Linked DNA regions of Homo sapiens: region 2 is linked to region 1. A link means that fine-mapping ties the variant in region 1 to the expression of a gene that starts in the linked region. Tissue or cell type: lung. Region 1 holds a variant in brackets; the other region holds the start of a gene. All regions are shown on one strand. Distances are from middle to middle. Region 1 overlaps DHX57 (DExH-box helicase 57). Region 2 holds the start of ARHGEF33 (Rho guanine nucleotide exchange factor 33).

Evidence for each region. PIP is the estimated chance that this variant, and not a neighbour inherited with it, causes the effect. A credible set is the group of variants that fine-mapping cannot tell apart.
Region 2: it holds the start of ARHGEF33, and the variant in region 1 is the best candidate, but not a certain one, in a credible set for the expression of ARHGEF33 in lung (GTEx, PIP 0.85).

The regions. Positions count from the first base shown.
Region 1 is chr2:38,863,247-38,871,246 of GRCh38, reverse strand. DHX57 (DExH-box helicase 57) reads left to right here. Exons shown (of 24, transcript NM_198963.3): 2 at 2,836-3,065; 3 at 7,728-7,886. The coding sequence starts at 2,842. Among named protein-coding and RNA genes, the nearest start is that of DHX57, 8.7 kb to the left of the region's middle. The variant G/C (reference allele first, on the strand shown) is at 3,557.
Region 2 is chr2:38,879,785-38,896,489 of GRCh38, reverse strand. It overlaps ARHGEF33 (Rho guanine nucleotide exchange factor 33), which reads right to left and starts at 6,615. Exons shown (of 18, transcript NM_001145451.5): 1 at 6,504-6,615; 2 at 641-713. MORN2 (MORN repeat containing 2) reads right to left here. Exons shown (of 5, transcript NM_001145450.3): 2 at 16,261-16,311; 3 at 15,784-15,890; 4 at 14,912-15,048; 5 at 13,781-14,077. The coding sequence ends at 13,975. It also overlaps the pseudogene RNU6-851P.

The DNA.
Region 1 (8,000 bases):
TACATATTATTTTATATAACTGCTTTTTAAATCATTTCAGAGAAAAGAAGAGACAATACTTTTGTACTGGTTTTCAAATAAATAAATGTCCAATATAAATGTGGATTTTTAAAAATAATTACTCAATTACCTTTACTAGTACTCTTTGTTTTTTCATGTAGATTTAAATTACCATCCAGGGATACTTGCCTCAACTTGAAGAACTGTTAGTATTTCTTGTGAGGCGGGTCTATTGACAACAAATTCTCTCAGTTTTGTTTGTCTGAGAAAGTTTTCATTTTACCTTCATTTTTGAAAGATAGCTTTTCTGGATTTTTGGTTAACTATTTTTTGTTGTTTTTTTTTTGTTTTTTGTTTTTTGTTTTTTTGAGATGGAGTCTCACTCTGTCACCCAGGCTGGAGTGCAGTGGCGCAATCTCGGCTCACTGCATCTTCTGTCTCCCATGTTCAAGTGATTCTCCTGCCTCAGCCTCCGAAGCAGCTGGGACTACAGGTGTGTGCCACCACACCCAGCTAATTTTTTGTATTTTTAGTAGAGACAGGGTTTCACTGTGTTAGCCAAGATGGTCTCGATCTCCTGACCTCGTGATCTGCCCGCCTTGGCCTCCCATAGTGCTGGAATTACAGGCATGAGCCACCACGCCCAGCCCTATTTTTTTCTTTGAGTATTTTAAATATATATGTCATTACCTTCTGCCCTCCATTGTTTCTGTGAAGAAATCAGTCATTAATTTTATTGGGGTTCCCCCCTGTAAGTGATAAGTTGTTTTTCTCTTACTCCTTTCATGATTTTCTCTTTGTCTTTTGACCTTCAACATTTTTATTGCAACATGTCTATTTTGTGCATCTCTGTGTTTATTTTCTAATAGTTGGAGGCCATTGAGCTTCCTGCATGTAGAGGTTATTGATTTTTAATGAATCAGAGAAGTTTTCTACCATTATTTCTTTGAATATTTTTTCTGCTCTTTTCTTTCTTTCCTTTCCTTCTGGTATTCTCATTATATGTATATGGTACCCTTGATGGTGTCCCACATTTTTCCAAGGCTCTGTTCACTTTTCTTCATTTATCGTTCTCTCTGTTTTCAGCTTGCATAATCAATGTCAGTCTGTCTTCAAGTTCATCAGTTCTTTCTCTTGCTAGTTCATGTTTATGGTTGAGCTTCTCTAGTGAATTTTTAATTTCAATTAGTATACTTTTCAACTCCAGAATTCCCATTTGGTTCTTTTTATATATATAATTTTTTATCTCTTTATTGATGTTCTCAATTTGATATGACATTGTCATCATACCTTCCTTTACTGCTTTAATTGTGCATTCCTTTATTTCTGTGAACATACTTATAATGACTATTTTGAACTCCTTTTCTGTTAAATCTGACATCTGTTCTCACTCATAGGCAGTTTGTGCTTTTTCTCTCCAGTGTATGGGTTATACTTAAGTGTTTCTTTGCATGCCTTGTGACTTTTTTGTTGTTAACTGAACATTTTGGATAACATACTGTAACAACTCTGGGTACTGATTCTCCCCTTTCAGGGGCTTCTTATTGTTATTTGCTGGTTTAATTTTTAGTGACTGGCTAGAATATTTTAGTGAAGTCTATTTCCCTCCTACGATTTTAAGCCTCTGTTGTTGCTCCTCTGGGAGGTACAGCTTTAGGTATGCCCATGGTTGATTGCTGAATTGTTTTCAACAATGCTCTGGAGAGTAAATTCCTTTACAAACTAATCCAACCAAAGTATGGCTTCTTTGAAGCAATAGTTTCTGAGATCCCAGTTTAATACTCATTCTAATCCCAAAAAGGAACTTCCTAGTGATCTTATTCCTTGGTTTGCTTCCTGCAAACTAGTTGGCCAACAGTCTAAACTACATCTTCATTTAATCCTGTAATCTCCCTTTCCCCACAACCTCACTATTCTTGAAAGCACCTTTAGGTTTGAACTTCTCCACACTCCATTGTAAATGGAGTCAGTCCTTTGGAAAAAGATTAGGAGCTATCTGTCTTACGGCCTACTTCCCTTTTGCCCTTGGCAGAATCTCTGAGCCCAAGCTGTGTTCCTGATAGAGCATATATAAATTTAAATTTTGTCAAAACATATATTAAATACATGAAAACTTCTCAACTGGATTTTTAAAATCCTATGCTAGGCTGGGTGCAGTGGCTCACACCTGTAATCCAAGCACTTTGGGATGCTGAGGTGCGCAGATCACTTGAGGTCATGAGTTCGAGACCAGCCTGGCCAACATGGTGAAATCCCATCTCTACTAAAAATACAAATATTAGCTGGGCGTGGTGGCAGGCGCCTGTAGTCCCAGCTACTCCAGAGGCTGAGGTAGGAGAATTGCTTGAACCCAGGAGGCAGAGGTTGCAGTGAGCTGAGATCATCCGGCCTGGGCGACAGAGCAAGACTCCATCTCTAAATAAATAAATAAATAAATAAATAAAACTCTAAATTAGACCTAACCAAATGAGAATCTAGGATTAAAGCCTAGACATGTGTATTTTGACACTTCTCCATGTGTTTATGATGTACATCTTTAGTTTAGAAATCTGTATCAGAGACATTCACTAAATATTAGTCCTGAGGTAGAAGTGCTTATAAATCTTTTGTGAAGATTTATCCATACTATCCCTAAACTGGCTGGCTCTTTTTATTTTGTAGTTTTAAAATTTTTTCACTGGAACAGATTCAGAATCCTGCCCCAAGACCAGCTCTTTTTACATATGCATTTTCCTTTGTTTCTTTAAAGTAGCCTATATTCATAAGTTTGGCAAACAAAGGATTATCATACATGTCTGGTTTTATGATGTCTACATTAATTTTTTTCTCTTGCAGGTGAAAATGAGTTCTTCAGTAAGAAGAAAAGGCAAGCCAGGCAAAGGAGGTGGAAAAGGGTCTTCTAGAGGAGGAAGAGGAGGCAGGAGTCACGCCAGTAAATCTCATGGGAGTGGTGGCGGTGGCGGTGGTGGTGGTGGTGGAGGTGGCGGCAACAGAAAGGCCTCCAGTAGAATATGGGATGATGGAGATGACTTTTGTATCTTCAGTGAATCAAGGCGCCCTTCCAGGTCATTATAACTCTTTGAATGTTTAAATATGGAAATGGTATCAACCCCTAATGTATGGGACAACAGATGGCTGAGAATGGAAAAAAAGTCGAGTAATTCTGGTCAAATTGTCTTCCTCTTTGTAACCCTTTTCTGAAGACATGATGGGAAATAACAGCTTTTGTGTGTATGTAGGTTGCATGACACTGTGAATTGAGTGTAATACTGCTATTATACCCAGTGTTACTAGGAAAGTAAATACAGAAATAGTGTGATGAAAATTATTTTAAGTATTCCTTATGCATCATAGACTGATGTTAAAATGATGATGTTAACATTGAACATGGACAGGTACGGTGGCTCACACCTGTAATCCCATCACTTTGGGAGGCCCAGGTGTGTGGATCGCTTGAGGTCAGGAGTTCGAGACCAGCCTGGCCAATAGGGTGAAATCCTGTCTCTACTAAAATACAAAAATTAGCCAGGCATGGTGGCAGTCACCTGTAATCCCA[G/C]GTACTAGGGAGGCTGAGGCAGGAGAATTGCTTGAACCCAGGAGGCAGAAGTTGCAGTGAGCTGAGATCACACCACTGCACTCCAGCCTGGGTGACAGAGTGAGACTCCATCTCAAAAAACAAACATTGAACAGCCTAAAGTGCAACATGACTGTACTGTGTCTTTCTAGTTGATGAGCTGTGTATTTTCCAGCCAAATCAGCCATCATCTGATGGTGTTACATGTGGTGACCAGTAACAGATGCCTTATCTAGGTTTCTCTCCTGTTCAACTTTTAACTAATGAATAAATTATGGGAATTCTAGTAATTCTAATGAGTATTTAATAAAAGTAAATGTTTTGCTATTGCATGTTATACAGTATAACTACAATTAGGCATCACTTAGTGACAGAGATGTGTTCTGAAAAATGCATTGTTAGGCAATTTCATTGTTGTGCAAACATCATAGAATGTACTTACACAACCCCAGATGGTACAACCTACAACACACCTAGGCTGTATGATGTAGCCAATTGCTCCTAGACTACAAATCTATACAGCATGTTGCTGTACTGAATACTCTAAGCAATTATAACACAATGGTAAGTATTTGTGTATCTAAACATGTCTAGTTGTAGAAAAGGTATAGTAAAAATAGAGTATAAGAGATTAAAAATGATACCTATGTAGGGCACTTACCGTGAATGGAAGTTGCAGGACTGGATTTTGCTCTGGGTGAGTCAGTGAGGAAGTGGTGAGTGAATGTGAAGGCCTAGGGATATTACTGTACACTACTATAGACTTTATAAATAGCAAGCAGCATAGTCTCTCTATGTTGCCCAGGCTGGTCTTGAACTCCTGGGCTCAAGCGATTCTCCTGCCTTGGCCTCCCATAGTGTTGGAATTACAGGCGTGAGCCACTGTGCCTAGCCAAGAACCTAACTTCTGAGTTAGCTGCAGCTCCATAGTTTTTCAAAACATGGACATTATAGGTTCTTGGAGTCCGTAGATGTTCATTCATTTGGTAAGTATTTACTGAATGCCTACCATGCACCAGGCACTGTTTTAGGGACTTGGAATTGCAGCAGGGAGTAAAATATTGTCCTTATCTAGATAGAATGGGATTTGAGATAGAAAAACCATAAACAAATGTATAACATTACCAGGTGCCGCATGCTATGGAGAGAAATAAAGGAGTGTAACAGGGATATAAAATACCAAAATAGAATTGTTAATTTATGTAGAAAGCCCCCCTAATAAGGTATCACGTGAAGAGAGGCAAGAAGTAAGTAAAGGAATAAGCTGTGAAGTTCTGAGTACAGCATTCAAGGCAGAGGGAAGAGCAATTTCTTAAGGCAAGAATGTGCTTGGAAGGTTTAGGAAATAGCAAAGAACCATGTGGCTAGAATGAGTGGGCAAGAAGGCAAGTGGTAGGCAATTAGATCAGAAAGACCAGACTGTATAGGACTTCATGGGCCATTATTAGGACTTTGGCTTTTACATGAAGTAAGACAGAAGGCCTTTGGAGGGTTTGAGGCAAGGGTGTGTGATATTATCAGTCAGTCTGGCCAGAGTTGTTTCTATTCAGTGTATGCCTTTATGTGAATTAGAAAATGGTGCTCCTTCCTTTGGACAGTTATAGCCCCACACCAGGATCATGGCTTAGCCAGCAGAACATGGACCGGATTTTGCTGTCCCTTCCTCCCTCTTCTTCCCTCCCAGCCAGGAACCTTTGTGCAGTGTACAGTCTATGAATCTATACTCAATAGCATTGACTGGGTGTGCTTTGTAGAGAATAAACTATAAAGGGGCATGAGTTGAAAGCAAGGAGACCAGTTAGGAGATGTTCTCCAAGTGTAGATATAAAATAGATAATTTAATATATAAATCTGAGGTTCAAGAAAAAGATCTAGGCTGGAGATGTAAATGTGTGAGTCTTCTATAGATAAATGCTAAAGTTCTGAGTCTGGATAAAATCGAATAGAGAAGGTATCTGATGTTTGAGCCCTGGGACACTCTAGGTTTTAAAGCTAAGAGAATTTGGAATGTTCCCAACACAAAGAAATGATAAATGTGTGAGGTGTTAGATATCCTAATTACCCTGATTTGATCACTACACATTGTATGCATGTATCAAAATAGCACATGTACCCCTGTATTAGTCCATTCTCACGCTGCTATAAGGACATACCCAAGACTGAGTAATTTATAAAGGAAAGAGGTTTAATTGACTCACAGTACCACAGGGCTGGGGTGGCCTCAGGAAACTTACAATCATGCTGAAAGGGGAAGCAAAAGCATCCTTCTTCACAAGGTGGCAGGAGAAAGAAGAATGAGAGCCAAGTAAAGGGGGACACCCCTTATAAAACCATCAGATCTCGTGAGAAGTTACTCACTATCACGAGAATAGCATGGGGGAGACTGCCCCCATGATTCAACTACCTCCAACCGGTTCCCTCCCATAACATGTGGGGATTATGGGAACTTCAATTGAAGATGAGATTTGACTTGCAGCCAAACCATTATCAACCGTATAAAGAATGTACAATTATTATGTGTCAATAAAAATTTTTAGTTAAAAAATAAATAAAGCTAAGAGAAAGTATGAAAAACAAAGGGGATTGAGAAGGAGCTGCCAATGAAGTAGGAAACTAAGAGAGTGGTTTTTGGAAGCCAAGGGACAAAGGTGTTTTAAAGGAGAGTAGCCAATAAGATCGAATTGTATGCTTAAAGAGGGTACACATTTGTGGAAAAATGCTTCTGGTAGGTCAAGGAAAATGTGCACTAAGAATTGTCCACTGCATTTGACAATGTGGGTATCATGGTTAACCTTGACAAGAGCTGTAGTAGCATAGGAAATACTGATTGGGTTGTGTTTCAGAGAGAAGAGGAAAGAAAATGGAGACAGAGACAATGATTTTGATAACCTAAATGAGAAGTTTTACTATAAGGGAGCTAGAGGGAGGAGAGATGGGTCAGTAGCTACAGGGAGATGTGCACTCAAGGGAGGATTTGGCTTGGTTTCATTTTTTTAAGAGGGTAGACCTTATAGTATGTCTGTATGCTGATGGGAATGATCCAAAGAAGAATGAAAAACCAGTGATTTAGAAAGGGGGATAAGTGCTGGAATGATTTCCTTGAGGAGATTAAAGAGATTGGCATATAGTTTACAAATAGAAAGGCTGACTTTAAGATAAAGGATGACTTTAAGATAGGAGCATGTGAAACTCCCAACTCCCCCTCATGTTTAACTGATCATTTCCTAATGATCAGACAAATCATAAGAGATTATATATGCTGTGTAATTTTTTTATTTCTTTTTTTTTAAATAGAGACAGGATCTTGCTATATTGCCCAGGCTGGTCTCGAACTCCTGGGGCTTAAGCAATCCTACCACTTCAGCCTCTTAAAGTGCTGGAATTACAGGTGTGAGCCAATGCCCCTGGCCTTTTTTTTTTTTTTTTTAATAATCAGAAATAAAGATAATTGGGTATTTTAGAAATGGGGCCTTAATATTCACAAGGAAGAATGAAACTCAGTGGTTTTCAGATTTTAATGCAGAATGAAATGAAATGCTCTTCATGTCCTATAGTGCAGAGGAAACCATCATTAGCATTGCTTTTTCCTAAGGATTCTTGAGTTAGTGAAGCCAGAATTAATGATTAAGAATCTGTTAAGTTTTGTTGTTTTTTTTTTTTTTAAACGGAATCTCGCTCTGTTGCCCAGGCTGTAGTGCAGTGGCACAATCTTGGCTTACTGCAACCTCTACCTCCAAGTTCAAGTGATTCTCCTGCCTCAGCCTCCTGAGTAGCTAGGATTACAGGAGCGCACTGCCACGCCCAGATAATTTTTGTATTTTTAGTAGAGACAGCATTTCACCATGTTGGCCAGGCTGGTCTGAAACTCCTGACCTCAGGTGATCCGCCAGCCTCGGCCTCCCAAAGTGCCAGGATTACAGGCGTGAGCCACTGCGCCTGGCCAAGAATCTGATAAGGTTTTTTTCCAGCAGGTCTGATATAATGAAGTCTGGTAAATACTATAGAAAATGGAGAATCTCCTCACATTCATTGTCATCTTTTGTAAGATACTTGACAATCCAGTTTGTATTGTGTATATCTGGGGACCCCTGAGGAGAGTGTAAAAGTTCTGATTGAAGATATGTGTGTAATTTTGCTCTTTTGTTCTCTATAGACCTAGCAACAGTAACATAAGCAAAGGAGAGTCACGCCCAAAATGGAAACCCAAAGCCAAAGTACCCCTTCAGACTCTACATATGACTTCTGAGAATCAAGAGAAAGTGAAAGCTCTTCTCCGAGACCTGCAAGAACAAGATGCTGATGCTGGATCTGAGTAAATTGTTTTATTTGAGTCAATTATTATATTAAGGAAAACATACTGGCAGTGTGAAGGTCCTGTGCATCTTTGGAATGCTGTGTCAGTACTGATTCTATTGTGGCCATTTAA
Region 2 (16,705 bases), 21 kb before region 1:
TTTTCACAATCATCAAAGACATCCAAAATAGAACTTAATTAAAACATAATATGGCTGAGCGCAGTGGCTCACACCTGTAATCCCAGCACTTTCGGAGGCCAAGGCAGGTAGATCACTTGAAGTCAGGAGTTCAAGACCAGCCTGGCCAACATGGTGAAACCCTGTCTCTATAAAAATACAAAAATTAGCTGGGCATGGTGGCGTGAGCCTGTAATCCCAGCTACTCGGGAGGCTGAGGCAGGAGGATTGCTTTAACCTGGAAGGCAGAGGTTGCAGTGACCTAAGATCACACCACTGCACTACTGGGCGACAGAGCAAGACTCTATCTCAAAACAAAACAAAACAAAACGAACAAACAAAAAAGCATAGTTCATTCTTGTCTCAATGCTGTTAGCATTCATATACGCAATCAAGTCTGATGTAACATAGCTGGTTTAGAAGGTGGCTATTTGCCCTTACTGCTAGCTAATTAAGTAATCTCACAATTTGTTTATTTGATGGTTATCAAACCAAGAATGGTTATAAAATTCTACAAAGAAATTTATAATACTTCTGCTTCAATAATGATCACTGGTTTAAGCTAAGTTCTCAGTTTGCCTGTGTTCTTATTAGAAAACAGTTCTTTGCAATTTTCACTCACCTCGTGCCCTGTCTCCACTGGGAGACATCACAGCATGTTTTTTGAAGTCTTCTTCTTGTTTTCTCTAGAAGTTCTGTAAAAAAAAAAAAAAAAAACGCCATTGATAATGATAGCTACCTTGCATTTTATACCATCATTTTTTCCTATAATTTTGTAATTAAAAGTTCTTATTATATATGCAATTCACTGTTGTTAAAGATTTCTAATAGGTAAAAAACATATAAAGTAAAAAAGTAAAAGTCTTTGTTTCTTTTAGTCTTTTAATTTTTAAGTCACTTGGTATTGAGCAAGTACAATCACCTCAGTATTCATATGTTTGGGGGACTAATAAAAATAAATTTCTATGTATTTAAAAACATAGCTCGAGAACTCCAACATGGCTTAGGGGGCTTTGCTGAATCAGAAGAGTTCAAAGCAGTTGATATGACCGTAAAATATTGAAAGCCACAAATCTAGAGTCTTTTCTAATATTCCACATTAAATCACCTACTTCAAGTGACAAGTGAAATGTGTTTGTAATAGGTTTTTCTTTAAGCGCCAATTGAAGTGATCTATACTCAAAATTAAGAACAAATCTATTTAGAAAACATTCTGTGATTTATATAATTTTTGCTGCAGTACGGGCAGTTTGGCCAATTCACTGAATCTTCCTGGACTTCGGTTTCCTGACCTGTATGATTGGCTTAGTAATAGTAATACTTGCCTCACAGTGTGGATGTGAAGATTCAGGGACACGAAGCCTGGAGGGAGGGAGACTGGGACATAGAGTTTAGGGAGGGGCAAAGCCTTACTTGGTCACCTTTTGTCACTTTATCAAGAGGCCTTTATTCTGGGTGAATCTGTTTATTCCCAGCTTGGCTTCCTCTTTTTTTCCTTTAATTTTACTGATTTTTTTTTTCTTAAAAGATTACTTTTGTACATAATGCTGTACTTTGTCTAAAGGAATATAAGAGGCCATGTAAGGCCTGATACTGGCTCTGACAGACACTGCTAGTTGCCACCCAGTATTCATTCTCCTCTTTTTTTGGAAACCCAGTTAAAAGACTGTATTCCCCTCTTCCTCACAGCTAAGTGTAACCATGAGACTAGATTTCTACCCATGCAATACAAGTAGAAACACTGAGTGACCACTGGGAAGTCTCCTAAAAGAGAGAACACACCTTTTTTCCCCATTCCTCGTTCCTGCTGGCTGAACATCAGTGAGATAGGTGGAGACCTAGCAACTGTCTTGGACCAAGAGGTGATATACTAAGGATGGCAGAAGAGCAAGATGACAGGAACCTGGGGGCCTCTCACTAAGGAACTCATCTAACAGCACTAGACTGCCTACCTTTGTGGGCTTGTTTGTTTGTTTGTTTGTTTTTAATGTAAGAGAGAAATACACTTCTAGCTTGTTTAAGCCTCTATTATTATTCTTTTTTTTTTTCCCCCAGCATATACAGATTAACTCAATCTTTACTGATATGCTGGCGTTCTAGGAAGCTATCCAGAGCCCAAAAGCAACATTTTTTTTTTTTAAAGGCAGGTTTTCTCTCTGAAGCCCAGGCTGGAGTGCAGTGGTGTGATTGTGGCTCTCTGCAGCCTCGACCTCCCGGGCTCTAGCAATCCTCCTGCCTCAGCCTCTGAGTAGCTGGAACTACAGGTGCATGCCACCATGCCTGGCTAATTTTTTTGTTTTTTGTTTTTTGTTTTTGGTAGAGATGGGGTTTTGCCACGTTGCCCAAGCTGGTCTCGAATTCCTGGGCTGAAATGATCCCAGTGTCTCGGCCTCCTAAAGTGTTGGGATCAAAAGAGTGAGCCAGCCTGGCAAGAACGATTTTTAATTCTGGAAAGTTTTCTTATATTTCCTTGGAGCCTATGTGTGCTTTCTGCTTATTAACAACAGTCTTCAGTCTTCAGTCTTCAGACTTTAGAAGTCTTCACTCCAGCCCTTGTTTGTGCCCTATCTCCCTTGAATTGCCTACATTTTAGATACTACTCACTCATTTGAGCTCTTCAGATAGAAACCTGGAAAATGAGGTAACTCACTTGGGAAAAAAAGAAAGAAAGTTTGGCTAAAATTAAGTTTTTAGGGGTTTAAACAGAGTTCACGTGCATTCAACAAGTATTTAATAAGCATATACCACATAAAAGGCATTGTACCAGGTGCTAGGAGAAATGAAAGGATGCCATTGTTTCTGCTTCCAGTCTAGAAGGGAAGATGAGACACATAAATAACTGTAACATATAATGGATTGTGACAAATGAAAAAGAAAAGTGTAAAGTGCCTAAAATTTTCAGAGAAAAGATGAATTCCCTTGTGGGGATTAGAGAAAGCTTCATTAAGAAGATAGGATTTGAGCCAGGCTTTGCATGATATGTAGAAACGGTCAAAAGGGGATCACCAGAGGGGCCAGGCACAGTGGTTCACACCTGTAATTCCAGCATTTTGGGAGGCTGAGGCAGGTAAATCGCTTGAGCTCAGGAGTTCGAGATCAGCCTGGCCAACATAGTGAAACTCTGTCTCTACTAAAAGTACAAAAATTAGCCCATGGTGGCGGGTGCCTGTAATCCCAGCTACTCAGGAGGCTGAGGCAGGAGAATTGCTTGAACCCAGGAGGCAGAGGTTGCAGTGAGCCAAGACTGTGCCACTGCACTCCACCCTGGCAACAGGGTGAGACCTTGTCTCAAAAAAAGAAAAAAAAAAAAAAAAGGATTACCAGAGGAACAAAGCACAAGGCCTAGGTGGATTTAGGAACCCTAGGGAGCAAAGAAGGTAGAGTAGAAGGTGAGGCTAGACAGGTAGATTGGGGGCAGATAGAGAGCCTTGAATCTCTTCTTTGGAGCTTGCTCTGCAGTGGAGAGAATGAGTCATTGAAAATGTTTAAGCAGAGGTATAACAAGATCACATATCTCTGGTAAGAAGATGACTTAGTGGCACTGTAGAGGAAAGAGCAGCTGCAAAGAGGCCAGTGAGCAGGCACCTTTAATAACTCAAGTAAAAGATAATGATGACCTGAATTAGGGAAGTGACTCTTAGAAAGGAAAGGAGGGCACAGATAGAAGCGACATTTCAAAGGTTGCTCCATGAGCCAAATGTATGCTTCACCCAAGAAAAAGAGTTGGATAGTCACTCTCAGATTCAGAAGGAGGAAATATGTCATAAGATAATTTTTAAAATTACTCTAACTTATTTGAACCAGGAGACTAAAAGGAGGCTGAATATGCTATAATAATGAACTTGGTTCTACAATTTTAGCAGAGCCTTAACTTTTGTTTTTGTCAATTGGGGGTGCACTGACTAACTCTGCTAGGAGATGGGGAAAGCACATTTTAAAATGTCTCAAAAAAGAAATACAACCATCCTTTCTTTCCCATTGTTCATCCTTTGCCCGGGTGTTATGGTACTTAGCAGATGTCAGTTAGGTTTTTCTACTTTTCCCCAGTTATCTGTTTACCCACCTTTAGGCATCATCTCTACCCACCCCACCTACTCACACACTCCATAAAAAACCCAGTGAAAATTACGAGGAGGAGATTTTTTTAGAGAGCATAAGAATTTTCCAGTATTTGCTTCTTCATTGCTTGCTAAAACCATGCCAGCATAGCCTGGGGAAAGGTGGAAAGGGCTGGCATTGCCCCATATAAGGGAATTATATCCTCAAATCATTTGAGATAAGTAGGCCCCAAAGACAAATCCAAAACAGCTACTCCCTCATTCTCAGGAAATAAATTCTAGAGATTTCCTCAAATGGATAAATTTGAGAATCCGATTAGCTGCCACTTTTTCTTTATTTTTCTGATTATTTTAGGAAGACTCAAACAGATGTTAATACTTACTACCCTGTCTTTTTGTCAGTAAAGGCATGAACAGACAACAAAATAATCATGAACATACCAATCAGAAGAGTGCTCTCTGTAATATTAGCATTTATGATTTGTTTCGTTCATCTTATTTGGGGCATTCAAAGTGCTTTACAAATAACATAATGAGGGTTTTTTTTCCTTCCATGACTCCCAAGGTGATTCCTGGCACTCTCAAAAGGCACAAGTGATTAGTCAAGTCCTTGGGGCCCAGCAGCAGTAATGTGATGCATGTTGGTTAAACTGTGTTTCACACTCATGTAAATTGTGTGGGGGGCGGGTGGGGAATCTTCCACACTGTCCTTGAGAAGATTAGCAAGAATTATGAATTTAAAGATTCTTACATTTATAAAAATCCAAACAAAGAGAAATATTGAACAAATCATACTCCAGTCCTAAAATCAAAGTCTAAGGGTCTTAACCTGTGGTCCCAGGAATAGGGTTTCAGGTCACCTGTAAATCTTCTGAAATTGTATGCAAAATTTTGTGTGATTTTACTTTTTTTTTTGCAGAAATGGTGGACTGGTTTCTGAAGATTCTAAAAGCAATTCTTGACACCGAAAAGGTTAAGAACTGCTGTCATTAAAGAAAAAGAAAGGAAGGAAGAGGGAGAGAGGAAGGGAGGAAAGGAGAGAGGAAGGGAAGGAGGAAGATCAGTTGATCTTTGTATCTACATTACTTAGTTTATTACTGGCCTGCTATGTTGAAGTACACCCTTATACACAGAGAAAAGGGAAGGTAAATAAAGGGAATTAAGAAAAAGTTAACAATAAGGCCGAGCATGGTGGCTCACACCTGTAATCCCAGCACTTTGGGAGGCTGAAGTGGGAGGACTGCTTGAGATCAGGAGTTCAAGACCAACCTGAGCAACATGACGAAACCCCATCTCTACAAAAAATACAAAAATTAGCCGGGTGTGGTGGTGTGCACCTGTGGTCTCAGTTACCTGTGGGGGCTGAGGTGGGAGGATTGCTTGAGCCCAGGTGACAAAGTGAGACCTTGTCTAAAAAAAGAAAAGAAAAAAGAAAAAAAAAAAAACCAATAGTATGGTCATCTTGTTTCAAAAGCCTCTGAGTTTTCAAATGAGTTTAGATTGCATTTCCAGAGCCCATGGTTATGAAAAATGTAGACATTAATTAATTCAGTTTGTGAAAAATGTTTAGAATAAATGTGCATCAAAAACTTTTTTCTCTAGGATACATTTCTGATCATTATGTTGAATCCTTCAGAAGTAGCCTTCAATGAAATAGCTATTCCATTTACAGCAATATGATTTTGTATTAAAAGGGGCTATTAAAAATATAAAAGGGTGATATAGAGATTTCTACATATTCAGAATACTATTTCAGCATATAAAAACTCACATAATTCCAATACTAATTATAATAGAACGCTATTCTCACTTAAGACAATGTTTAAGTGAAACTCAGTTCTTCTCATTACACACCAAAGCCCCATGAAGTGTTTAGAATTAGGTTTCACCAATAAAGCCCCCATGTAATTAATCAGTACACATTTTCAATCAGGATATGTTTTTTGTTCTGTACATAGGGGAGTGAATGCTGAAGATTCCCCTATTCTTTTTCTGTGTTAGAAAGGAATAAACCAATCTCCCTCCATCCCTAATCTTTTTCATTCTTTAATTATTCTTAATCCCAAAGAGGCATGTCCATGTCAGATTTACGCTGTCTAGCATCCTTTCTTTAAGACTGCTCTCAAAATTTAACTCATCTTCAACTATATTTATTAATATGCAGAACAACTTCAGTCTCCAGTTTATCGATAACCTGCAAAGCGCAGTTAAGACATAATATAAAAATTAAGCAAGGAAATAAATGTTTTACAAATTGTTATAACTCTTAAATAAAAGTTATTTCTTTGAATGCCTACCTCAAATAAATGTTAGCATATATTGGATTTAAATTAGTACACCACGTGGTAAGGATTGATGGGTTTTCATCTCTTATAAAATTGTTTCCCCTTTCAGTGCCCCTTAAAGCATATAAAAGCGCATACTTACCCCATGTTGCCTGCGGTGGTTATATCATCCTCAGATCAAGGCTTATCTGGGTTCTGAATTAACTTAAAGGTTATAAAAAGAAGCAGTAGAGAGGCTTGACTTCCCCTGAAACGAGACCGTAGTATGCTAACCAGGCTTTTAAATGAGGAAAACTAGTGTCTCTTCTAATTATATAAGCTCCAGGTCAAATTCTAGCATCAACTAATCAAATAACTGAACTGCATTTAGTTTCAATGAGTAAAAAGGAAGAAACCCATTTAGGAGGAATATCTTTGGTATACTAGAAAATTGAAAAGTTGTACTTTGAAAAGTTATTAACATAGCAATACAAGTTAAATATTTTAAGAGTAAAATATATATCTTGCTGCCTTAAATAAATTGAAAAAAATTAGGGAAAATTTATTTTGCAGCAAAGCAGATACTTTTCTATATTTTCCAGAAGTTTTTGAATTTAAATTATATGTCCTGGTCCCTGAAAACATCTTCTCACCTTATCTTAACTTGTCCAGTATTTGTCTCTTCATGAATTTCCATATAATAATAATATTTAATTCTAAAGCCATGCCAGCTAATGTTTAGCAACATATACAAAAATGTCCAATTCTTAAAATGTGTCTTTGAAAACTTACAAATAGGGTCTTTCAAAATTAGCCATAAAGCTATTATTATGAGAAACTAACAAAAATGCCATTTTTATTTTAACATTTTAGAAGACATTGTAACCCAAATTTGTGCCAGTACAGCAAAAAATAAAAATATACATCTTTTGGCAATAACATATTGAGAAATACAAATATTCACAAGATTTTGAATAGAGAAATATGACAAAGAAGTTATCTATTGTGTACACTATTTTTTGTCAGTTTTAGAATATAGAGTTTCAGCAAAAACATTCAGGTCTTTATTGTAATTTTTTAAATGTAGTTGACATATACTGCTCTGGTAATTTTTAAATTATCTTATGTAAAAAGTAAAGAAGTTTTCTGGACATAGAATATATGACAACACACAGATCTACTTTTTAAGAAATTGAGACATAATTTACACATCATACATAAAATTTGTCCCTGTTAAATGAACAATTCAGTGGTTTTTAGTACATTTTCAAGACTGTGCAACCATCACCACTGTCTAATTCTAGAAACCTCATGCCTCCCAATTTCTTCCTCCCCTGGCAACCACTAATCTATTTTCTGTCCCTAAGGATTTGCCTATTCAGAGCATTTCACATAAATGGAATCATATAATATGTGGCCGTTTGTGACTGGTTCCTTTCACTTAGTACAATGTTTGTTTGTTTGTTGTTTTTGAGATGAAGTTTTGCTCTGTCACCCATCCTGGAGTGCAGTGGCATGATCTTGGTTCACTGCAACCTCTGCCTCCTGGGCTCAAGCAGTCCTCCCAAGTAGCTGGGACTATAGGCATGTGCCACCACACCTGGCTAATTTTTGTATTTTTTGTAGAGATGGGATTTTGCCATGCTGCCCAGCCTGGTCTCAAACTCCTGGCAAGCGATCCACACACCTTGGCATCCCAAAGTGCTGGGATTACAGGATGAGCCACCTGCCTGGCCAGTACAATGTTTCTGAAGTTCATCCATGTTGTAGTATCAGTACTTCATTTTTTATGGCTGAATAATATTCCATTATGTGGACATTTTGTTTACACATTCATTAGTTGATGGACATTTGGATTGTTTCCAGTTGGGGCTATTATACATGTCTTAGTCCATTTGAACTGCTATAAGAAAATACCTTAGACAGGGTAATTTTAAACAACAGAAATGTATTGCTCACAGTTCTGGAGGCTGTTAAGTCCAAGATCAAGGCACTAGCAGATTTAGTGTCTGGTAAGGACTTGCTCTCTTCTTCAAAGATGGCACCTTCTTGCATCATTCTCTTGTGACAGAAGAAGCAAGCAATCTCCTTCACATCTCTTTTATAAGGGCACTAATCCCATCCATGAGGGCTCTGTCCTTATAACCTAATCACCTCCTAAAGGCCTCAACTCTTAATACTACCACAGTAGAGATTAGGTTTTTGTTGTTGTTGTTGTTGTTTTTAGACAGAGTCTCACTCTGTTGCCCCTGCTGGAGTGCAGTGGCGCCATCTTGGCTCACTGCAGACTCCACCTCCCAGTTTCAAGCAATTCTTGTGCCTCAGCCTCCCGAGTAGCTGGGATTACAGGCACACACCACCACGCCTGGCTAATTTTTGTATTTTTAGTGGAGAGGAGGTTTCACCATGTTGGCCAGGCTGGTCTCAAACTCCTGACCTTAAATGATGCACCCACCTTGGCCTCCCAAAGTATTGGGATTACAGTCGTGAGGAAATTAGGTTTAAACATGAATTTTGGAAGGACACATTCAGACTATAGCAATGAATAATGTTGCTATGAACATTCGTGTGCAAGTCAATTCCCTTGCGTACATACCTAGGAACTGCTGAGTCACGTAGTAACTCTATGTCTAATATTTTGAGGAAATGTATTCCACAGCAGCTGCACCATTTTATATTCCCACCAGAAATGTGTGAGGCCTCCAATTTCCCCACATCATTGCCAATCTTTGTATTGTCTGTTTTTTTTTTTTGATATAGCCATCCCACCAAACAATGCATGTTCTCACTTATAAGTGGGAGCTGAACAATGAGAACACATGGACACAGGAGGAGAACAACACACATGTTGTGGAAGTGGGGGAAGAGAGAGCATCAGGAAAAATAGCTAATGCTTGCTGGGCTTAATACCTAGGTTATGGGTTAATAAGTGCAGCAAACCACCATGGCACACATTTACCTATGTAATAAACCTACACATCCTGCACATGTACCCCAGAACTTAAAATAAAATAATAATAATAATAATAGCTATCCCAGTTGGTGTGAAGTGGTATCTCACGGTGGGTTTGTAGGTTTAAGGTTCATTTCCCTGAAGAGTAAGGATGTTAAGCATCTTTTTGTTTACTTATTGGCTACTTGTATATCTCCTTCAGAGAAACATCTGTTCAAATTCTTTGACCTTTTTTTTTTTTTTGAGATGGGAGTCTCGCTCTGTTGCCCAGGCTGGAGTGCAATGGCGCGATCTCGGCTCACTGCAACCTCCGCCTACCATGTTTAAGCGATTCTCCTGCCTCAGCCTCCTGAGCAGGTGGGATTACAGGTGCCCGCCATCATGCCCAGCTATTTTTTGTATTTTTAGTAGAGATGGGGTTTCACCATGTTGGCCAGGCTGCTCTTGAATTCCTGATCTCAGGTGATCTGCCTGCCTCGGCCTCCCAAAGTGCTGGGATTACAGGTGTGAGCCACTGCCCCCCGCCCATTTTAAAAATTAAGGTTTTTTTAATTGTTGGGTTGTAAAAGTTCTTTATACATTTTGGAAACTAGACTTTGTATCAGTGTCATAATTTTTATTGCTATGGTTTCTGGAAATCTGGAGGTAGCAGTGAGCTCAACCAGTGGGGTGGGGGTGAGAGAGAAGACCACAGGACTACACCTTTATTAAGGTCCACGGATGTTATCCCTTAGGCTTTCCCTCTGGGGTTGTGGATTGGCTAGTTTAAAGAAAACATGTGGAAAGGGGGAACTTATTTTTGCATGACTTATTTTGACCTTTAGGTTTTATCATGGTCAGCACCTGTGGGATGTGTTGGGTTTTGGGTCAGCAGGGTAAGGAACAAGTGGGCTGTATTGCAAACAACTACAAGGGGAAGGAAAGTTTTAACTAGGCCAAGAGTAATGGGATATGACTGGATGTCAGACAACTTATGTCAGGCCTAAAAATGGATGCTGAGGCAGTGACTATATTAAGCAAATTTCTGACAATCAGATATGATTTGCAAGTATATTATCCCATTGTGAGGATGGTATTTCCATTTTCTTGATAGTCTCCTTTAATGTATACTTTTTTAAAGATAGAAGTGACAAGAGTTAGCATCCTTGCCTTGTTCCCAGTCTTAGAGTAAAAGCTTTTCAGTTTTTCACTGTTGAGTATGATGTTAGCTGTGGGCTTTTTATATATGACCTCTGTTATGTTTAGGTAATTTCTTTCTGTTCCTAATTTGTTAAGAGGTTTTTTTTTAAATAATGAACAGGTTCTCAATTTTGTTAAATGCTTTTTCTGCATCTGTTGAGCTGATTATGTGATTTTAGTCCTCTATTCTGTTAATGTAGAATATCACATTAGTTGATTTTCGTATGTTGAACTATCCTTGCATCCCAGGGATAAATCTCACTTGGTCATGGTATATGACCCTTTCCATGTGTTGTTGGAAACAGGGGAAAATCTTCATGACATTGATCTTGGCAATGAGTTCATGGATAATGACACCAAAAGCACAGGCAACAAAACAAAAAATAAACAAGTGGAACCACATCAAACCAAAATCTTCTGCACAGCAAAGGAAACAATCAACAGAGTGAAAAGGTAACAACCTACAGAATGGATGAAAATATCTGCAAATCATATATCAGATCAGGATTTAATCTGTAAAATATATGAGGAATTCTTACAACTCAATGGTAAAAAAAATTAATAACCTGATTTAAAAATGGATTAGGAACTGAACAGACGTTTTTTCAAAGAAGACATATAAATGGTCAATAGGTATTTGGAAAAATGCTCGATGTCACTAATCATCAGAGAAATAGAAATGAAAACCACAATGAGATACCACCTTATACCAGACAGGATGGCTATCATCAAAAACAAAAAACAAATGCTAAGGAGGTGGAGAAATTGAACCCTTGCTGTTTTGTCTCTCTAAACCCTCAAATCCTCGGCTGGAATCACCCCAAAAGCAGTGGCAGGGGGACTTCCCACAAGGGAGTCTCCAACTGTCCTGAGATAGGGCTGGCTGGAATACCAAAGAAAAAACTCTAAGCTCTAGGGTGATCAGTCCAAAGAATTTATTAGGGAAACTTCCTTACAGAGGGCTGCAGCAATTGCTGAGAGAGAAAAGGAATGTTCTACCCAGGTATGTCTGCAGCAAGGGGATCAGAGTCTGGAGTTTCTATGACAGTTTGAGAAATTTGGCTCAGGGCTGGGGGCCAGTTTCAGTGTTTTGAGCAACAACCGAAATACCTTTCTCAGTGCTTGGGAATGTTCAAGGCCCAGTTTGGGTTCAAGCCTGCTGAGAAAAACATATAGCCAGCTGGGTCACAGAGCAGTCAAGGTACTCTGTGATTTTCAGTAAGGGCACAGAAAGAAAGTGGGAAGAACTGGGTTACCATACACTTGCCCACTGTTGCTGGGAATGCAAAATGGTGCAGCTGCTATGGTAAATCCTATGGAAGTTCCTCAAGAGATTAAAAATATAACTACTGTACTTGCTTTGGCAGAACACACACTAAAATTGGAATGATACAGAGAAGATGAGCATGGCCCCTGTGCAAAGATGACATGCAGATTTGTGAAGTGGTCCACATTAAAATAATAATAATAATAAATAAATAAATAACAAGAACAAAAAACTACTATATGAGTCAGCAATCCTACTTCTGGGTGTTTATCCAAAAGAACTGAAGCCGGGTGCAGTGGCTCATGCCTGTAATCCCAGCATTTTGGGAGGCCAGGCAGGCCAGGAGTTCAAGACCAGCCTGGCCAATATGGTGAAACCCTGTCTCTACTGAAAATACCAAAAAATTAGCCAGGGATGGTGGACCACACCTGTAATCCTGGCTACTTGGGTAGCCAGGGCACAAGAATTGCTTGAACCCATAAAGCAGAGGTTGCAGTGAGCCGAGATCACACCACTGCACTCCAGCCCGGGCAACAGAGTGAGACTCCTCTATCTCAAAAAAAAAAAAAAAAAAAAAAAAAAAAGAATTGCTATCAAGATCTCAAATAAATATTAGTACTCCTATGCTCACTGCAGCACTATTTACAATAGTCAAGATGTGGAAACAAACTAAACGTCCACCACCCCTGGCTAATTTTTTGGTATTTTCAGTTGAGATGGGGTTTCACCATGTTGGCCAGGCTGGTCTTGAACGCCTGGCCTGCCTGGCCTCCCAAAATACTGGGATTACAGGCATGAGCCACTGCACCCGGCTTCAATTCTTTTGGATAAACACCCAGAAGTAGGATTGCTGACTCATATAGTAGCAGTCCACCACAATGAATAAAGAAAATGTGGTTTACACATATAATGGAATACTACTCAGCCTTAAAAGAGAAATCCTGTGATTTGTGACAACATGGATGAACCCTGAGGACATTATTCTAAATAAGCCAGTCACAGAAAGACCAGTACTATATGATTCCACTTTTAAGTATGAGGTATTTAAAATAGTCAAATGTGGCCGGGTGGGGTGGCTCACACCTGTAATCCCAGGACTTTGGGAGGCCGAGGGCGGGTGGATCAGAAGTTCGAGACCAGCCTGGTAAACATGGTGAAACCCCATCTCTACTAAAAATACAAAAATTAGCTGGGCATGGTGGCAAGTGCCTGTAATCCCAGCTACTCGGGAGGCTGAGGCAGGAGAATAGCTTGAACCCGGGAGGCAGAGGTTGCAGTGAGCCAAGATTGCACTGTTGCACTCCAGCCTGGGCAAAAAGAGTGAAACCCCATCTCAAAAAAATAAAAAATAAGAAAAATAAAATAGTCAAATTCATAGAATCAAAGAGTAGAATATGGTTACCAGGGGCTGGGGTGATGGGAAAATAAGAGGTAACTAATAAAAGGCCATAAAGTTTCAGTCAAGCAAGATGAATAAGCTCTAGAGATCTGCTGTACAACATTGTACCTATAGTCAACAATAATGTATTGTACACTTAAAATTGTGTTCATTATCCTTAGCAAACTAACAGAACGGGAACAGAAAACCAAATACCGAATGTTCTCACTTATAAGTGGGAGCTAAATGATGAGAACTTGTGGACACAAAGAAAGGAACAACAGACACTGGGGCTACCTGAGGATGGTGGCTGGGAGGAGGGAGAGGATCAGAAAAAATAACTATTGGTACTATGCTTAGTACCTAGGGGACAAAATAATCTGTATAACAAACACTGTGACATGAGTTTACCTGTATAACAAACCTGCACATGTACGCCTGAACCTAAAATAAAAGTTAGAAAATAATAAGAAATGAATAAAATGTATTACAGCCTAAAAAAAAAAGTTGTTTTTTTTTTAAAGAGGTCGGATGTTGACCAGGACACACAAGCACAAACTAGAAAAAAAAAAAAAAAATGACAAAACTCAAACAGAGGATTGGAAATCAACTTTGCCAAGATTTGGATGCTTCTGCCATAGTTATTATAATAAGCAGACTGAATTGAATCATGTCATTTATTTTAAACTAATTGTAAGACAATGAATATAAAGTTCAAAAAGGTGTAAGCAGGTGATGGTTTTATTGGCAAACTTATAGGGGTAGTGTATGAAGTCATTTCAAATAACAGATTAAGTTGCTTTCCTTACAACTAAAAGCTTCAATTACTACATTTCAACTTTAATTTAACATCACATCTACATGTGAAGCTTTAATTTCAGGTCTGGAGCAGCTGTAAAATGAAAGTTACCACTCCATTCTAGTCCTTGGATATCAGTATATTCCCCTTCACCTTCCACCCTGCAATAGTAGAAAATAAGTTTTCCATTAACAAAGATGAATAATTTACAGTCCAGATATAAGATTTTCTAGCATAATATATACTATGTCTGAAGATTATATCCTCTACTTTCAAGCTTTGCTTTTAAACCCAGCATCCTGCTTTCATATCCTACCAAAAAAACAAACAAACCAAAAAAAAAAAAAAAAAAACCACATACTATTCCAAACAAAAACAAACAATTATTTGGTGTCCAAGATTTTAGGATCACATAATCTAGGTTCACACAAAACCAAAACAATGAGTTAAAAAAATGAAAAGTTTATATCGGTTATCTAGCTTAATTACTTCACTTATTCAACAAATATTTTTTCACTATCAATGATGTTTGAGGTGCTGTGCCACCGCACCTGGCCTCCAACAATTTTTAGAAACTATATCATAAAAGAATATTTAGAATTAACTAAATATAGTATTTAAGCAGCTGGGCACAGTGGCTCACGCCTGTAATCTCAGCACTCTGAGAGGCCGAGGCAGGCAGATCACTTGAGGTCAGGAGTTCTAGACCAGCCTGCTCAACACGGTGAAACCCCGTCCCTACTGAAAATACAAAAAATAGCTGGGTGTGGTAGTGCACATCTGTGGACCCAGCTACTTGGGTGGCTGAGGCAAGAGAATCGCTTGAACCCGGGAGGCAGAGGTTGCAGTGAGCCGAGATCACTCCACTGCACTCCTGCCTGGATGACAGAGGGAGACTCTGTCTCAATAAATAAATAAATAAATAAGTATTTAAGCAAACATACCAGAAAATAATCTTTTAGAAATGCAGTGATTTTTTTTTATTTTAAGCTTACCTATTTTCATTGAAATTTCCAGTATACTTTGCCCCATTTGGGAATGTGTAAGTCCCCAGTCCATGAAACATATTATCCTTAAATTGTCCTTCATATACTGCTCCTGAAAAATGCTCAAGTCTTCCAAAACCATTCATCTGTTTGTAACAAAGGAAATTACCTTAGAAACTAATCTTCAGTTTCCCAAGAACCTTTAAAAAATGTACAAATATAAGTCTATCATCTGCTAATTATTACTTAACCAACTTTGTATTGTCCTTTATTTCCATAGTATAAAGACAACATTTTTATCATTTTCCTTCATCTGTATCTATCTGTGAAGCCCAGTAAATTAAATGTTCTGGATCTGGGACATTTGAACATCAGGGGGTCCATGATGAAGATAAATAGGGGTCCTCAAGATACCCTGAATGTATCAGAAATCTTAAAGGGCAACCAGTTTAGTTAGTTCAGGAAACCAGTACAAAGTAGTTGTTAAGAATTCAAATTTGGATTTGAGCAGACCAGGGTATACTTTCCTGTTTTATCATTTACTAGCTGGGCAAGAAACCTGAGCCTGATTTTCCTCATTTGTAAAATAGAGTATTAATGGTACCTATCTCATGAGGTTATTATGAGGATTAAATGAGAAAATTATGTAACGGATTCAGCTTTACTCAATGAATAGGAGATGAGAAAGAAAGTAACGATGATTAGCTTTCTACAGTGAGTTTAATATTACTCATAAGTTAATATATGTTAATATGATCATTTGTTATTTTTATTATATAGTCTACTCATTATAGGAGTTTTTGATTAATGGTGAAATGCCTGGAATCACTAAACCTACAGGGTTATTTATCCACTGCCAATATTAAAAACAACAATAATACCTTGTCATCTTTCCAGCTTCCTGTGTAGACAATCCCATTAGGAGTGGTATGAATACCTATTCCATTTCTCTCGTAGATTCCAGAAGATGTTCTTGTACAGTCACCATCTAAACAGAGGAGAAAAACTGAAGATTATAAATGAGAATAGTTATGTCTGGGCCTAATCGCAACTACACCTCATGGGTTTCTTTGGCTCCCTAGCACTGAAACCAGTGAGACCAGAGATGAGAAAATCCATGGACACAGAACATCTTGTAACAATTGAGACTCAAGGGCCAGGAAGATTGACAGATCCCATAGGTTTCCAAGGCATTGGAATTTTGATTTTAAAAGCTCTTTATCTATTAGGATTTCTGTTATTTTAGTTAATAAAGTTAATATCCTAATAGTAGTTTTATAAAATTTAACAGTCTCAGTTTTTTATTCCTAAGCTATTTAATTTTCTATACAGAAAAAGTAATTGAAGCGTATACTTACCATACTTGTCTCCATTTGGAAAGATAAAGCTGATCTTATACACTTCTGAAGCTGTTTTAAAAGATTTAAAAACAGTGACATAAGTTTACTTTTTTTTCGATAGAGGCAAGGTTTCACTACATTGCCCAGGCCAGTCTCAAACTCCTGGGCTCAAGCGATCCTCCCGCCTCAGCCTCCCAAAGTGCTGGGGATGCAAATGTGAGCCACCACACCCAACCAAGTGTAAACATTCTTATGTCATAAGACCTATACCCAATGTGCTTTCAGCACTATCCAAATGGACTTACTTCTCAAGATCACATCATATCATGATTACTTGGTATTTCCATTGTCTAATGTAGGGTCCCGGGGAAATAAACAATTTTGCCTAGATGATCTCTTTTAAAATTTATTTATTATGATAGCTTTATTAATATATAATTCACACACCACAAAATCTACCCTT